Linked DNA regions of Homo sapiens. The protein of the gene in region 4 interacts with the protein of the main gene of each other region in a pairwise test. Each region holds a gene or a part of one and is shown on either strand. Other genes may lie near its edges.

What was found.
Region 1: the proteins of WTAP (region 4) and CTSD interact in binary tests that used the Homo sapiens proteins (3 or more experiments, as listed by UniProt).
Region 2: the proteins of WTAP (region 4) and GTSE1 interact in a two-hybrid assay, tested with the Homo sapiens proteins (one large-scale study listed by BioGRID).
Region 3: the proteins of WTAP (region 4) and TAB1 interact in a two-hybrid assay, tested with the Homo sapiens proteins (one large-scale study listed by BioGRID and IntAct).

The regions. Positions count from the first base shown.
Region 1 is NC_000011.10:1,753,928-1,758,086, reverse strand, and holds part of CTSD (cathepsin D preproprotein), read left to right. Parts: intron 1-530; coding exon 531-763; intron 764-3,058; coding exon 3,059-3,181; intron 3,182-3,948; coding exon 3,949-4,093; intron 4,094-4,159. UniProt on the Homo sapiens protein: Acid protease active in intracellular protein breakdown. Plays a role in APP processing following cleavage and activation by ADAM30 which leads to APP degradation.
Region 2 is NC_000022.11:46,299,211-46,303,369, reverse strand, and holds part of GTSE1 (G2 and S phase-expressed protein 1), read right to left. Parts: intron 1-4,159. UniProt on the Homo sapiens protein: May be involved in p53-induced cell cycle arrest in G2/M phase by interfering with microtubule rearrangements that are required to enter mitosis. Overexpression delays G2/M phase progression.
Region 3 is NC_000022.11:39,423,121-39,427,279, reverse strand, and holds part of TAB1 (TGF-beta-activated kinase 1 and MAP3K7-binding protein 1), read right to left. Parts: intron 578-4,159; coding exon 355-577; intron 1-354. UniProt on the Homo sapiens protein: Key adapter protein that plays an essential role in JNK and NF-kappa-B activation and proinflammatory cytokines production in response to stimulation with TLRs and cytokines.
Region 4 is NC_000006.12:159,753,420-159,757,920, forward strand, and holds the end of WTAP (pre-mRNA-splicing regulator WTAP), read left to right. Parts: intron 1-40; coding exon 41-195; intron 196-1,608; coding exon 1,609-2,192; 3' UTR 2,193-2,900; downstream 2,901-4,501. UniProt on the Homo sapiens protein: Associated component of the WMM complex, a complex that mediates N6-methyladenosine (m6A) methylation of RNAs, a modification that plays a role in the efficiency of mRNA splicing and RNA processing.

The DNA of each region.
Region 1 (4,159 bases), on a different chromosome or scaffold from region 4:
CCGTGTCAGCCTCAAGCTGTCGTTCCCTTCCCACATCCTGCTCTGGCCGTGTTCTCTCTCTGCAGCCTCATCCAGGGCTGGGGGAGGGGACAGGCAGAGAAGGGGAAGGGGGCAGTATGGCTGTGAGCTTGGGATGGGGTCGGCAGGTTCCCCATCTCTCGGGCTCCTGGCCCAGGCTGTGTCTTGTTCCCAGCGCTGAGGGCAGGAGCAGGACCTGCCTGTCATTGGTGGTGGGAGTAAGAGGTCGGAGCAGGGAGCGGAGCAAGGGGCCTGCCCGTCTGTGCTCCTGCCTGGTTCCCATCTCGTGTAAACCGAGCCCTGATGACTTCCACGAAGAGGGCCCCGCCATACCCCGTGTCCCCATCCCCAGCGGTGTTCAGCTCAGGGTTTCCAGCCCTTTCTTCTGGGCCCTCTGGGCCCCATCGTGTGTGGGATGGGCATCCATTGAACTGGGTTTTGTAGCCTCATGCTCAGGGAGTGGTGTAGGGCTCAGCCTGTCTGCTGCCCACTGACTCTGCCCTGGCCTGCAGGTGCCCTGCCAGTCAGCGTCGTCAGCCTCTGCCCTGGGCGGTGTCAAAGTGGAGAGGCAGGTCTTTGGGGAGGCCACCAAGCAGCCAGGCATCACCTTCATCGCAGCCAAGTTCGATGGCATCCTGGGCATGGCCTACCCCCGCATCTCCGTCAACAACGTGCTGCCCGTCTTCGACAACCTGATGCAGCAGAAGCTGGTGGACCAGAACATCTTCTCCTTCTACCTGAGCAGGTGGGCGTGTGGGTTCCCTCTCGCTCCGCGTTGCTGGGAGGCAGGGCGGGGCTGGACGGGGAGCCTTCTAGGCACCCCCTCTCAGTGCTGCCCCCTCCCTGCTGCTGTGCCAGAGCTCCTGACCTCTGACCTCAGGGCATCCGGGAGGCGGGGGTTGGCCGCCCTTCTGCAGAGGAGTAAGCGGCAGCACAGAGAAAGCTGTTTGGCCGGGGTCTCCCAGTGGGAGGGGCTCGGGCCAGGCTGTGGGTCCTGGGACCTTGGCAGCTGGGCCTCCCTCCTATGAGAATGGACCCAGGTCAGGGGTCGTGGCAGTTCCTCTTGGTTCAGTCGGCCCGTCGGTCCCCAGACCTGGTGATGGGCACATGTGGTCCTGGTCCCGGGGTTGCTGATGGTGGAGAGGGTCATGGTGCCCAGGGGACCGGGGATCCCCGGGGAGGTGACCTTGGGTGCGTATGGGTCCCCGGCACCACGCTGCGAGCAGCTCTGTGGGCGTCCCCAGCAGGTGCCGGCTGCCCTCGAGGAGGAACATAGGGGGCCCTTCCTTCTGGGAAAAGGGTTCTCCCCCAGGGCCCCCACCTGCAGCCGCTGCTCCAGCTTGGGTGACCCATGGTCAGGTGACCTTGGGAAGGGGACGTCGGACTCAGTTAGTTTCCTCTTCTCGGGGCAGACCTGAGTGGAGGGTTCCACATAAGAGGGGTGACTGGGGGTTGGGGGCTTTTGTTTTGGGGGTGGGCAGCGTGTCAGCCGGCGGCCTCCTGCCCTGAGCTGCGCCTGGTCACTGCCCCACACTCTCCAGGGCTGACAGGGGCAGGTTTACCTCACGTGGCTCACTTGGCACTTGGAGTCTCTGGGCCTGACCCCTAACCTTGGATCGCTTCCGGCAGAATTCCGGCTGTAGGGCTGGCTGGGCCTCTTTGCTCTGCCCCTTGCCTGGGCAGTGAATACTCCTTAGCAACACCCAGGGCTAAGCTGCTCACTAGAGGCCAGGACACAGGTGAACCGGCTGGGCCATTTCCCCAGGAGCCTTGGGGCACAGGGGAGGCAGCCAGGTGAAAAGGGGTCCCCTGAGGGCAAGAGGGCATGCAGGCATGAGTGCCCACATGGGGAGGGGGCACACAGCCTGAGTACCCAGGTCAGGGAGGGGGACACAGGCATGAATGCCCATGTGGGGGAGGGGCACACAGCATGAGTGCCCATGTGGGGGAGGGGCACACGGTATGAGTACCCAGGTCGGGGGAGGCATACACAGGCATGAGTGCCAGGTGGAAGGAGGGGCACACAGAGTGAGTGCCCAGGTGGGGGAGGTGCACATGGTTGTGAGTGCCCAGGTGTAGTCTCAAGGCAGCAGCTTGGGCAGGAAGTGGAGCCAGGCAGGAGGGAGGGTCTGAGGGCTTCTGAAAGCATGTTTGGTGAGGAGAGGAGGGGTGGGAGGCGCTGATCAGGTTTCTACACTTGGGATTGCAGAGGTGTTGACAAGAGGCAAAGGCGGAGGAGGCTGGAGGAGGGCGGAGGCCCCAATCGGTGTTGGGAGGACTGGGTCAGGCCTGGCACTGCCTCGAGTGACAGGCAGTGGGATGGTGGCCAGCTTAGCTGCAGACGCTCTGGCGGGATGGCAGAACCGCCCCAGACACAGAGAGCTTCTCTACCAGGACCGGCAGGATTTGCTGCGTTGAAAGCTGTACTTGAGCAATGTTTAGAAACAAACCCGGGCGACATGGGTTGCAGGTCCTAGGAAGTGCAGTGCGCTCCTGCCCAGGAGCACCTTGGCTGGCCATCAGTGGTCTGGATGAGGGGGAGATGAGCGGACGTGGCTCGGGGATGCAGGTGGAGGGTGTTCCCAGGAGCAGCCAGTGCAGAGGCCCTGCGGCCAGAACCAGCCATCCCAACTTCCCAGATTGTGCCATCACTCCCTCCTGGAAGCCTTCTTTGGTTTTTTCTTCCAGACAGACAGACAGGGTCCTCCCCAGTGGAGCTCCTGGCACTCACTTCCTTGTCTGCCGCTAGCCTTGACCCTGATGTCTGGCTGAACCTTGGCTCCTGAGCAGACCAGGAGAACCTGAGGGTTGAGGAAAACCTCTTCTGGGCCAGGCTGGGCCCACGCAGAGCAGCCCTACCCCGGGAAGAAGGGAGTCTGTCCCTCCTCCTGCCTTCTGGGCCTTTCCATCCCTGCAGTTTCAGAAAGGCCCCTCCTTCAGGAAGCTCTCCCTGATTGCCACATTCACCCTCTTACTCCTGACCTGGCACTCTTGTGCTTGGGGGGTGGCGTGGCAGCTGACTCCTCCCTTTTCCTCCTAGGGACCCAGATGCGCAGCCTGGGGGTGAGCTGATGCTGGGTGGCACAGACTCCAAGTATTACAAGGGTTCTCTGTCCTACCTGAATGTCACCCGCAAGGCCTACTGGCAGGTCCACCTGGACCAGTGAGTAGTGGCTGCAGTCGGCTCCCCTGGGTTCTGTGGGCGGGGGCGGTGTGCGGAGACCCTGGAGGACCCCGGTTCTGCAGGTGGGGGTTGCATGTGGGGAGTAGTGGGAGCTGGGCAAGAAAGAGATGGGGTCAGACCAGCCCTCCATGCCCCTCCTTGCCCCTCCATGCTCCCCATCACCTCCATCCCCTCTATTCCCTCTATCCCTCCATCCCTCCATTTCCTCCATGCCTCTGTGACTCTCCATGACCCACCATCCCTTCTGTCCATCCCTCCATGCCCTCCATCCCCTCCATCCCCTCATCCCTCTGTGACTCTTCATGACCCTCCATCTCCTCCATCCCTCCATCCCCTCCATCCCTCCATCCCTCCATCCCCTCCATCCCTCCATCCCTCCATCCCCACATCCCTCTGTGACTCTCCATGACCCTCCATCCCCTCCATCTGTCTATCCCTCCATCCCTCCATCCCTCCATGCCCCTCCATCCCTTCATCCCCTCCATCCCCTCCATCCCTCTATGCCCCTCCATCCCCTCCATCCCTCCATGCCCCTCACCACCACCTGAGGGTCTCCCACCCCCTCTACCACTCTGTGTCTCCTCTCCCACCCTCTTCCCTGGAGGGCTTACAGCCGGCTGTGCTTCCAGGAGCCCTGAGGGGAGGAGAGTGCAGCCCAGCCAGGGGAGGGGCTCCCAGGGAGGGGCACTGGGCCCCCAGGGCACACTCCAGTCCCGGCAGGGGCTTCACGCCCTGACTCCCCGCAGGGTGGAGGTGGCCAGCGGGCTGACCCTGTGCAAGGAGGGCTGTGAGGCCATTGTGGACACAGGCACTTCCCTCATGGTGGGCCCGGTGGATGAGGTGCGCGAGCTGCAGAAGGCCATCGGGGCCGTGCCGCTGATTCAGGGCGAGGTGAGCGCCGGGGGCTGGGGCTGGGGCTGGGGCTGGCAGGGGGAGCCCCAAGGCCACCACTACCAC
Region 2 (4,159 bases), on a different chromosome or scaffold from region 4:
CATATCTACAAAGAACAGTGAGAAGATAACATGGAAGAAAATACTTCGTTTCTAGCAGCAACGAAAGATGCAAAATAACGATAAACAAACCTAACAAGAAATATGCAAAATGGATATAAAGAAGACTTGGCATATCATAAAAGTAACATATCAAATAAAGAGGGAAAGTAGACCGGGCAGGGTGGCTCACATCTGTAATCCCAGCACTTTGGGAGGCCGAGGAGGGTGGATCACAAGGTCAGGAGATCGAGACCATCCTGGCTAACACGGTGAAACCCCATCTCTACTAAAAAATACAAAAAATTAGCCGGGTGTGGTGGCAGGTGCCTGTAGTCCCAGCTACTTGGGAGGCTGATGCAGAAGAATGGCATGAACCTGGGAGGCGGAGCTTGCAGTGAGCCAAGATCACGCCACTGCACTCCAGCCTGGGTGACAGAGCAAGACTCCAACTCAAAGAAAAAAAAAAAAAAAAAAGAGGGAAAGTGAAAAAATGGTATTAAAATAAACTACATAATCATCTGGAAAAATGCCAACTAAGTTTGGTCCATGCCTCACACCACATCAGGCCTAATTCCAAACAAATCAAGGACTTAATGGAAAAAAAACAAAGCCCTAAACAAACAAGAATCAGCTATGAGGAAACTTTTGTAACTTGGGAGTGTGGACTTCTAACTATGACACTAAACTGGAAGCTACCAAAGATTGGTCGGCTGGGCCCAGTGGCTCACATCTGTAATCCCAGCACTTTGGGAGGCTGAGGTGGGAGGAACGCTTGAGCCTAGGAGTTTGAGACCAGCCTAGACAACATAGGGAGACCTTGTCTGTACAAAAAATACAAAAATTAGCTAGGCGTGGTAGTCTCAGCTACCAGGGAGGCTTAGGAAGGAGGATCGCATGAGCCTGGGAGGTCAAAGCTGCAGTGAGCCACAATCTCGCCACTACACTCAGGCCCAGGCAACAGAACAAGAACATGTCTCAGAAAATAAATAAATAAAAAATAAAAGATTGACCTTCAAACATTAAAATTTTAACATCTCTGTGTGGCAAAAATCACAATAAGTTAAACAAGAAATGGGGAAAAGAATATTTGCAACTCAGTTCATAAAGGGCTAATTCATGAAGCATATCTATAAAGTAATAAAAAATTAATAATCTAATAAAGATAGAAAAAGGATACAAACAGATAAAGTTCACAGAAAATAAAACAAAACATTCTTTTTTATTTTTCTTTATTTACTTTTTTTGAGACGGAGTTTCACTCTTGTTGCTCAGGCTGGAGTGCAATGGCGCGATCTTGGCTCACCGCAACCTCTGCCTCCTGGGTTCAAGCGATTCTCCTGCCCTAGCCTCCCAAGTAGCTGGGATCAGTATGAACCAGCATGTCTGGCTAATTTTGTATTTTTAGTAGAGACGGGGTTTCTGCATGTTGGTCAGGCTGGTCTGGAACTCCCGATCTCAGGTGATCCGCCCACCCTGGCCTCCCAAAGTGTTGGGATGACAGGCGCAAGCCACCGCACCTGGCCGAAACATTCTTAAATAGATGGCAAGAAGTTCAGCCTCACTCAAAAATAAGAGTAATGAGGCTGGGCGCTGTGGCTCCCACCTATAATCCCAGCACTTTGGAAGGTCGAGGCGGGTGGATCACCTGAGGTCAGGAGTTCGAGACCAGCCTGGCCAACATGGTGAAACCTCATCTTTACTAAAAATACAAAAAATTAGCCAGGCCTGGTGGCAGGTGCCTGTAATCCCAGCTACTTGGGAGGCTGAGGCAGGAGAATTGCTGGAACCTGAGAGGGGGAGTTTGCAGTGAGCCGAGATCGCACCATTGCACTCCAGCCTAGGGGACAAAAGGGAAACTCTGTCTTAAAAAAAAAAAAAAAAAGTATTAAAAATAAACTTGCTCTGAGAATGCAGTTTTCGCCTATATGACTGGCAAAACTCAAAGATGTATGAACTATAGGCAAGGTTGTGGGGAAAGAGACAATTTCTACACTGCTGGGGAAGGTGTAAATTATCACAGCTCTCTAGAGGGCCTGGCAGTACCTATCGAAGTAAGAAACACACACCCTCTTCGACCCAGCAAGTCTACTTCTGCAAGTGTATCCTACAGACACTCACAGGTGTGGAAAGCAATGTGTTGTGCAGTTACACGGTGTCCACAGTTATTTACTGCAGCATCATTGGTAACAGCAAGACTCTAGGCACAAACTAAATGTTCACCCACAGCAGATGAGATGAATGACATATCCCCAAGGTGGAACCCTATATAGGTACAAAAGCTAGTAATGCTCTTCATGTGTTGATACACAATATTCATCAAGATAAATTAAGCCTGAAAAACAAGATTCAGGACAGGGCTCTCCATGCTATATGGAAAGGGGGATGCAACACTCTATGCGTGTTGGCTTGCACCTGCACAAATTATGTCTGGAAGGATACCCAAGAGACTGATGACATCGATGGCCCTTGGAAGGGCAAGTAGGTGACTTAGAGATATAGAGAGGCAGACATTTCACTTTTTACACCTCTAAATTAGGAAGTCAATTTCAGAAACTTCTAATGGTCTGGCGTGGAAAAAGAATCCAGGACCAGAACTCAGGGAAGCAGTCTTCTGCTCCAGGCTCTGTGACTGGCTCCGAGGGGTCCCGGGCTGGCTGACTTGCTCATCCTGCAAACACATGAGCACCCACAACAGACCACATCCTTCGCTAGGTGCCAGGCAGGCTTGGGGTACATGCAGCCCACCCTGGAGGGTGCCTCAGGCAGTGCGGTGAGAGACATGTAGAGGTGGGAACACCTCTGAGAAAATATCAAAGCGTGTGTGAGAGGAACGGGTCAGAAGTCAGAGTGGCTGGAAGAGGTGAAAACACAAGTTGGGTCAGATCACAGAGGGTTTGCAAGCCATGGCAAGGAGCTTTTATTTTCTCCAAAGTGGGATAGGAAACTATTACCGGGCTTTAAGAAAAGAATTTTAGGCCTGGCGTGGTAGCTCATGCCTGTAATCCCAGCACAGTGGTAGGCTGAGGCAGGCGGATCACTTGAGGTCGAGTTCGAGACCGTCCTGACCAACATGGTGAAACCCCGTCTCTACTGAAAATACAAAACTTAGCTGGGCACGGTGGCTCATGCCTTTAATCCCAGCTACTCAGGAGGCTGAGGCAGGGGAATCACTTGAACCCAGGAGACGGAGGTTGCAGTGAGCCAAGATGTCGCCACTGCACTCCAGCCTGGTGACAGAACGAGACTCCATCTCAAAAAGAAAAAAAAGGCTGAGCACAGTGGCTCATGCCTGTAATCCCAGCACTTCCGGAGGCCCAGGCGGGCAGATCACGAGGTCAGGAGATTGAGACCATCCTGGCTAACACAGTGAAACCCCATCTCTACTAAAAAAAAAAAAAAAAAAAAAAAAATTAGCTGGGCGTGGTGGCGGGCGCCTGTAGTCCCAGATACTCAGGAGGCTGAGGCAGGAGAATTGCTTGAACCCAAGAGGCGGAGGTTGCAGTAAGCCGAGATCACGCCACTGCACTCCAGCCTGGCCAACAGTGAGACTCTGTCTCAAAAAAAAAAAAGAAAAAGAAAAAAGAAAAGAAAAGAGCTTTATAATCTAACTTGTGTTTTTAAAAGGTGACGTTACTGTGTAGAAAGTGTATCCGAAAGGAAGCAGATAATATCCCCTGACATTACAAATGCACATATTAGCCAACGGGAAGTAGAAGCCGGTGAGACAGCGTGGCTGAGACCCAGACAGCAGCATGTGGATGGAGATGGAGAGTCTGTAGATGGATTCAGGATATCTTCTGAAGGTGGAGAAGACGTTAGCTGGTGATGGCATGAATGTAGGAGGTTCTCAGCTTGCACAGCTGGGTGAAATGGAGAAATAAAATGGGTGATGAGAAAGACAAAAAGAACAGGGTATGCAGATGCAGAGGGGGTATGCCAAGTTTGAGATGAGACGTGCATGTGAAGACGCCAAATAGGCAGGTGAATATACAAGCCCAGAGCTCGGAGGAGAGGCTGCGCTCAAGACAAAACGTGGGTGCCGCAGAGAGCAGATACGCTGCACAGCTATTGGAATGCTGACCGCCCTGAGGGCGAAAGCACAAAGCGGTCCCAGAGCAGGTCTTGGGGAAATCAGCCTCAGAAGACAGCAGAGGGGGAG
Region 3 (4,159 bases), on a different chromosome or scaffold from region 4:
CCCATGAGGACTGAAGGGAATAAGGCAGGCTGTGTGCCTGGCACAAGGGAGGCACTCAATCAGTGGTGGCCATCATCTCTATTATGTGGCTTCAGGGCTCTGTGAATTGCTTGCTGGGGCACTCAGGTTCTGGGAGGTTGCCGGGGCAGGTGGTATTAACCTCATTTTACAGACAAAAGAGCAAAAATCAACACTCAGCTCAGAGAGGCTAAAAATCAGAGAACCTGAATTAGAGCCACTCAGAGCCAGGCCTCCTGACTCCATCTCCGTTTCAAGCAGCCTCGGGGGCTCTGCACCCACCTCTGGCCCCCAGATGGCATCCCCAGGCACTGCCTGTCTGCACAGCACACGTACCTGGGGCTGGGCTCGGTGTGGGCTGGCTCATTTCGCCCAGCGGGTAGCCAAAGTTCCTCACTAGCAGGGTCATGTCCTCGTGCCGGGGGCAGAACCTGGCACGCTCCCCACCACTGGCGAAGGTGTCGCTGTGGATGCGCTTCACCCGGTCCACGACGGCCTGGGCCACTGCGTCCAGGGAGGTCTGCTTGGCAAACTCAGTGTCAATCATCGCAGCAATCTCCTGGGGGAGGGGGTAGGAAGAACCTGGTAAGGAACGAGGTGCGGCCTGGGGGGCATGGGCCATAATCTTGGAGCCTAAAATCAGGAGATTCAGTGGTCAACAGCCCAGCAGGTGAAGGAAATGCCTGCCAGCCAAGTTTGCAATCTGAGCCTTTCAAGGTATTCAGGATAATCCTTCTGGAACTTTCTCATTAGGAAGTGTGTGCTCTTGTGATTGCTCTAATTGTTGGGTGCACACCTCTAGGATGGGGAGAACATCCATTTGACTGGGTGAATACGAGTATTAACTAACAGTGGTGTGAGAGCACTCTGCCAGCCACTAAAAAGCCTAGTAGCAAGTGTCATTATTATGAAACACTCTTTCCTGGAACAAACTTGTTGTAGGCGATGTTATACATGCTAGGATTTTGTCAGGAACTGGGGATACAGAATGAAAACAGGGTCCCTGACCTCAGAGAAGTCCCTGTCTAGTATACAGATGTTCCTCAATTTAGGATGGGACTATGTCCTGACAAACCCACTGTAAGTTGAAAATATCATAAGTTGACCGGGCACAGTGGCTTGCGCCTGTAATCCCAGCACTTTGGGAGGCTGAGGTGGGAGGACTGCCAGAGGTCAGGAGATCGAGACCAGCTTGGCCAACATGTTGAAACCCCGTCTCTACTTAAAAATACAAAAATTAGCTGGGCATGGTGGCACATGCCTGTAATCCCAGCAACTTGAGAGGCTGAGGCAGGAGAATTGCTTGAGCCCAGGAGACGGAGGTTGCAGGGAGCCGAGACCAGCCTGGCCAACAGGGCAAGACTCTGTCTCAAAAAAAAAAAAAAAAAGAAAATATCGTAAGTTGAAAAAGCATTTGGCCGGGCGTGGTGGCTCACACCTGTAATCTCAGCACTTTGGGATTCTGAGGCAGGCCGATCATGAGGTCAGGAGATCGAGACCATCCTGGCTAATACGGTGAAACCCCATCTCTACTAAAAATACAAAAAATTAGCCGGGCGTGGTGGCGGGTGCCTGTAGTCCCAGCTACTCGGGAGGCTGAGGCAGAATGGCGTGAACCCGGGAGGTGATCAGTAAGCCCAGATCGAGCCACTGCACTCCAGCCTGGGTGACAGAGCGAGACTCCATCTCAAAAAAAAAAAAAGAAAAGAAAAAGCATTTAATGCACCTAATCTACTGAACATCATCACTTAGCCTAGCCTACCTTAAATGTGCTCAGAACACTTCTATTAGCCTACGGCTGGGCAAAATCATCTAGCACAAAGCCTATTTTCATTATTATATAAGAAAATGTTGAATCCCATGTAATTTTTTTTTTTTTGAGACAGAGTCTCACTGTGTTGACCAGGCTGGAGTGCAGTGCTGTGATCTCAGCTCACTGCAAGTTCCATCTCCCAGGTTCAAGAATTCTCCCGCCTCAGCCTCCCGAGTAGCTAGGATTACAGGCGTGCGTCACTATGCACCAGATAATTTTTTTTTTTTTTTGTATTTTTAGTAGAGATGGGGTTTCACCGTATTAGCCAGGATGGTCTCGATCTCCTGACCTAAAGTGATCTTCCCGCCTCAGCCTCCCAAAGTGCTGGGATTACAGGCGTGAGCCACCACGCCCAGCCGAATCTCATGTAATTTATTGAGTACTGTTTTGACAGTGAAAAACAGAATGGTTGTAGGGGTATGGGAGCACAGTTCCCACTGAATATGTATCACTTTCTCACCATCATAAAGTTTCTTTTGGGCGGGGCAGGAGGGCAGGGACAGGTAATAGGAAATGACCTGCACCTGGTCCTGGTGGGCTCAGTTTCAACACTAAGCAGCAACGTCACTTCTGGCAAGAACCTGAACTCCGTGGACCCCAAATTCCCTACTCTACCTGGAAATAAGCCCCTGTCCCTCTATGTTATAAGGCTACTGGAAGGAATGGTAAGCTTATATAACAGGTAAAGAAATCAGAACACAGGCTGGGCGCAGTGGCTCATGTCTATAATCCCAGAACTTTGGGAGGCCAAGGCAGGTGGATCATCTGAGGTTACGAGTTCAAGATAAGCCTGGCCAAAAAGGCAAAACCCCATCTCTACTAAAAATACAAAAATTAGCCGGGTGTGGTGGTGGCACATGCCTGTAGTCCCAGCTACTCAGGAGGCTGAGGCAGAAGAATGACTTGAACCCGGGAGGTGGAGGTTACAGTGAGCCGAGATTGCACCACTGCACTCCAGCTTGGCCAACAGAGCAAGACTCCATCTCAAAAAAAAAAAAAAAAAAAAAAAAGAAATCAGAACACAGGGAACAGGGGATAGTTAGGCACTTGAGACTTTTTCGAAGTAGATCTGCATTCAATCCAGCAGTCTGGGCATCTACCTAAAGGAAAATAAGTCATTATATGAAAAAGATACTTGCACACGTATGTTTATAGCAGCACAATTCACAATTGCAAAGATGTGGAACCAGCCTAAGTGGCCATTGACTAATGAGCAGATAAAGAAAATGTATCTATAAACTATGGAATACTACTCAGCCAGTAAAAGGAAAGAATGAATGTCTTTTGCAGCAACTTGGATGGAGATGAAGGCCATTATTCTAAGTAACACAGGAGTGGAAAACCACAAACTATGTTCTCACTCGTAAGTGGGAGCTAAATGATGGGAATGCACAGGCATACAGAGTGATATAATGGAACTTTAGAGACTCAAGGCGGGAGGATGGCAGTGGTGCTAGGGATAAAACACTATACATTAGTTACAATGTACACTATAAAACACTATACATTAGTTACAACGTACACTATAAAACACTATACATTAGTTACAATGTACACTATAAAACACTATACATTAGTTACAATGTACACTATAAAACACTATACATTAGTTACAATGTACACTATAAAACACTATACATTAGTTACAATGTACACTATAAAACACTATACATTACTTACAATGTACACTACTGGAATAACTGGTTTACTAAGATCTCAGAATTCACCACTACATAATTCATCCCTATAACAAAAAAATACTGGTACCTCAAAAGCTACTGAAATAAAAATTAATTTTCAAATTTTAAAGAAGACTTTTTCCTCATGATATTGATTGATTGATTGAGACAGAGTCTTGCTCTGTTGCTCAGGCTGGAGTGCAGTGGTGCGATCTTGGCTCACTGCAACCTCCACCTCCCGGGTTCAAGCGATTCTCCTGCCTCAGCCTCCTGAGTAGCTGGGATTACAGGTGCCTGCCACCACACCCGGCTAATTTTTGTATTTTTAGTAGAGACGGGGCTTCACCATGTTGGCCAGGCTGGTCTCGAACTCCTGACCTCAAGTGATCCGCCTGCCTCGGCTTCCCAAAGTCCTGGGATTACAAGCATGAGCCACTGTGCCCGGCCAATACATGATTTTTAATTAAAAAGGACAAAGCAGGCTGGGCACAGTGGCTCATGCCTACAATCCCAGCATCTTGGGAGGCCAAGGTAGGAGGATCACTTGAGACCAGGAGTTTGAGATTAACCTGGGCGATACAGTGAGACCCTGTCTCTACCAAAAAAACAAAACAAAGAAAACAACCAAAATTAGCCAGGTGTGGTGGCA
Region 4 (4,501 bases):
TTTGTCTTCATTTTGTGATGGATGGCTCTTTCCTTTGCAGCCAAACAGGGAAAAAGTTAATGGCGAAGTGTCGAATGCTTATCCAGGAGAATCAAGAGCTTGGAAGGCAGCTGTCCCAGGGACGTATTGCACAACTTGAAGCAGAGTTGGCTTTACAGAAGAAATACAGTGAGGAGCTTAAAAGCAGTCAGGATGGTAAGGGGTTTGTTTCTTTTTGGAACGTTGTCTCAACTTTGCATTGGCTTTTTAAAACTGCCAGTCATGAATATTATAGGTTAGATTCTGTACATTGTTAACCTCTGCCCTATGATTGTATATTATTGTGAGTGAAGCATTTTTAGTTGAGTCCGCAAACAAAGCCATATAATTTTAGTTTGTTTATCCCCACCCTCCTAATTCTTTATTGTTCAAAATTTCTTACATTTTTGTTTTTAGTTGGGGGTAGGATTTGGTAAAAGATAAAAGGGTGTTGTATTACTTAACAAGATGGACAAATTTGTATTCATTGTTTGAAAGGGAGAATAAGCATTTCTCGTTAAGTGTAAATCTTAGAAACATGGGCAGTTTTCAGCGATCTGAAAGTAATAAAGTTGATTGTATCTGTGAAGGTTTTATTAGTGAATAAGAGATTTAATCTTTAAATTTGCTGAGATAAAACTTGTCAGCCTCCATCCTTTTTAGTGCAAGTGTAGCTGTATCTCTGTTTCTCTTCTTTGTAAGGTGCATTATTAATAAGGAAAATATCCAAATTCTTTGAAATTTTAAATTGAAAATTAGTGTCTCTGGTTAATTGCAAAGATGATCAGTAGCCAAGTAATTTCTTCTGAACTACCTACCTTTTCAAAATCTTCAGGAATTATTTCCTGTGACTTTTGTCCTTTTATATGTAACAGTCCTTGGTTGAGAACATGGGCCTCTTTGGAGTGTTATAGAGGACCACACTATCCTTAAGGATCAGACTTGCTATGGAACTAAGGCACTGGATCAGGAATAAGGGGATTGGCCATAGTGGGCCCATAGGTAAACGTGAGTCAAACTTTGGGGCTGTAATCAGGCATATGGCAAGATGGATCAAAACAATTTTAACTTGGTTGCTTAATACAGTTGCCCTCGGTATCCATGGTGGATTGGTGTCAGGACCTCCCACAGTAAGCCCCTCATATAAAATGATGTCATATTTACATATAAACCTATGTACATCTTCCCCTTTGAGCCATCTCTAGATTAACAGTACCTAATACAATATAAATGCTAGGAAAATAGTTATTTTACTGTATTGTTTGGGGGATAATGACAAGAAAAAAAATCTGTACATGTTCAGTATAGACCCAGTTTTTTCTTCCTTGAATATTTTCCTTCTACAGTTGCTTGAATTCATTGTTGCATGTGGAGGGCCAACTGTATATTATTTTAAGTATCTGACTTCCCCCAAAACAAACTCAGTCATATTTTAAGATTCCAAGCAAAATTTTTAAATGTAGTGTGATTTTAGAATTGTATTTGTTTACTTGAGCGTTTATTGACTCCCTTGCTTTGTGGCAGGCACTAAAGAAACATTTTTCAATGTTATAAACGATATTAAAGTTGGTCTGACTCTCCTTTGCACAGAACTGAATGACTTCATCATCCAGCTTGATGAAGAAGTAGAGGGTATGCAGAGTACCATTCTAGTTCTGCAGCAGCAGCTGAAGGAGACACGCCAGCAGTTGGCTCAGTACCAGCAGCAGCAGTCTCAGGCCTCTGCCCCAAGTACCAGCAGGACTACAGCTTCTGAACCTGTAGAACAGTCAGAGGCCACAAGTAAAGACTGCAGTCGTCTGACAAACGGACCAAGTAATGGTAGCTCCTCCCGCCAGAGGACGTCTGGGTCTGGATTTCACAGGGAGGGCAACACAACCGAAGATGACTTTCCTTCTTCTCCAGGGAATGGTAATAAGTCCTCCAACAGCTCAGAGGAGAGAACTGGCAGAGGAGGTAGTGGTTACGTAAATCAACTCAGTGCGGGGTATGAAAGTGTAGACTCTCCCACGGGCAGTGAAAACTCTCTCACACACCAATCAAATGACACAGACTCCAGTCATGACCCTCAAGAGGAGAAAGCAGTGAGTGGGAAAGGTAATCGAACTGTGGGTTCCCGCCACGTTCAGAATGGCTTGGACTCAAGTGTAAATGTACAGGGTTCAGTTTTGTAATATTTTTTCAGCAAATTTTTATACAGTGTCATTTAATTTGGGAGAGGATACTGTCCAGAAAATTAATGCATACTTTTGTCACAATTTGCCTTTTTGTGGGTGTACGTTTTGGTTTTTTTTTGTTGTTTTTTTTCTTTGTTTTTTTTTTCTTTTCTTTTTTTTTTTTTTTTTTTTTTTTTGCTTCAATACTTCTGCCGCTTTGGAAATTGTAACAGTTAATTACTTTGAATGTTGCTAAAAGGACATTTTGTGTAGGGTCAAGTTATTTTTATATGAGTTAATGTGAAATTGTAAATGGAAATTTTTCCTTAAAATACAACACAATGATGTCTGTATAAATCTGTCTGTTTAGAATCTGTGCTGTGTAAGGGCATTCGTACTCATGCTGTTACTGTACTTATGCACCATTCAGACTTGTTAGAGTAGATGTGGGTTTATGACTGCCAAGTTTGCCCAGTACAGTAGTTTTTTATCACTAAAAGTTGGACTCATTGATGGAGTCCTGTAGTAGTTTCAGTGTTAGATACAGTTTTTTCCACCATACATCTGTGCATTTTCTCTTTAGGTGACTGTTTAAGAAATTTGTGTGCATAGTTACTCAGTTTTTATGAACTGTTGTATCCTGTTAATGCATATTGCTCTGTGACTCCAGTATATCTTACCTGTACTGACCAAACCTAAATAAAGATTTTTATTGTAACTCCTTAATTAGCTTTTTTGTTTTGTTTTGGGTGTATGTTTAGCATTTGTCATTTTCATTGAGTCATTGAATTTCTACTCATTATCCTTCAAGTACCACAACAGTCAAACTTAAGACCAAGCATCGATTACGATTTTGCACACAATTTTTAATTTATGCCTTATTTTGCAAAACGGAGCTGGAGTTTAGGGCTACACTTAAAATTTTTTCTTGACTTATAATTGTTACAAAATATTTTAAAATACAGAAAAGTATAAAGAAAATAGTCATCTATTTCTTAGGCTTTTTTTTTTTTTTTTTTTTTAATTGAGACAGGGTCTTGCTTTGTCACTTAGGCTCAAGTGCAGTGGTGCAGTCATGGCTCACTGCAGCCTCAAAGTCCTCGACTCAAGTGATCCTCCCACTTCAGGCTTCCGAGTACCTGAGACTATAGGCATATACTACCACACCCAGCTACATTTATTTTAATTTTAGTAGAGACAAGGCCTCGCTATGTTGCACAGGCTGGCCTCAAACTCCTGGCCCCAAGGGATCCTTCTGCCTTGGCTTCCCAACGTGTTGGGATTGCAGGAGTGAGCTACAGCTCCTGGCCCTTTTTGAGTTTTAATTGAAAAGCAGCGTTGGTTTTTTGTGACCTGATTTCAAGTAGAGTATCTTTGTAGTTAGTGATGTTTGTTTTAAAACGCTGGCCAGCACTACTGATTTTTACTAACAACATATCTGGTAATATTATATGAGTAAGGGGTGTTAGAATGTAGGTAGGAGAAAATGTTTTTAAGGTGGAAGAATGTCAAAATTTGCTCCATTTTCTCAGAGGTAATTAAGTATAAAAGTATGATATTGAATGGCCTTCAAATGTGTAGCTTTCATATATGGTTGAAATGAAATTCCATTTCTGTTAAAAGCAAAGTATTGTTTTAGACATAACTTGTAATACAATCAAGGAACCTTGGGAGTGGAGTTATAATACTCGAAAACTGAGGTACAACTTATTTGAAAGTAATTGCTGCTTTTGCTTGTTTAGCTGATACAGGTATATCCGGTCTTCAGCAGTATGTTAAATACTGCACTGTCTCTTGATTAACCTTTTCTTTTTTTTCTTTTTCTCTTTTTTTTTTTTGCCGAGAGTCTCGCTCTGCCACCCAGGCTGGAGTGCAGTGGCACCATCGTGGCTCACTGCAACCTCCACCTCCCGGATTCAAGTAATTCTCCTGCCTCAGACTCCTGAGTAGCTGGGATTACAGGCGTGCGCCACCATGCCCGGCTTATTTTTGTATTTTTAGAAGAGATGAGGTTTCACTGTGTTGGCCAGGCTGGTCTCGAACTCCTGACCTTGTGATCCACCCACCTCGGCCTCCCAAAGTGCTGGGATTACAGGTGTGAGCCACCGCGCCCAACCTTGATTAACCTTTTCTACAGTCTGCTCAAGTGAGTAAAAAATCCTATACGATTTTTAATTTGCATGTGATTAAACATTTTGGTGTTTGATATATCAGATACTGTGTTTGGCTTTTGTTATGTACATCCTTCAACTTGACCAATTTAAACAAAAATGTAATTTCTCTGTCCTGTTGGTGTAATGTAATCAAGAGTTTGTGATAGGAAATTA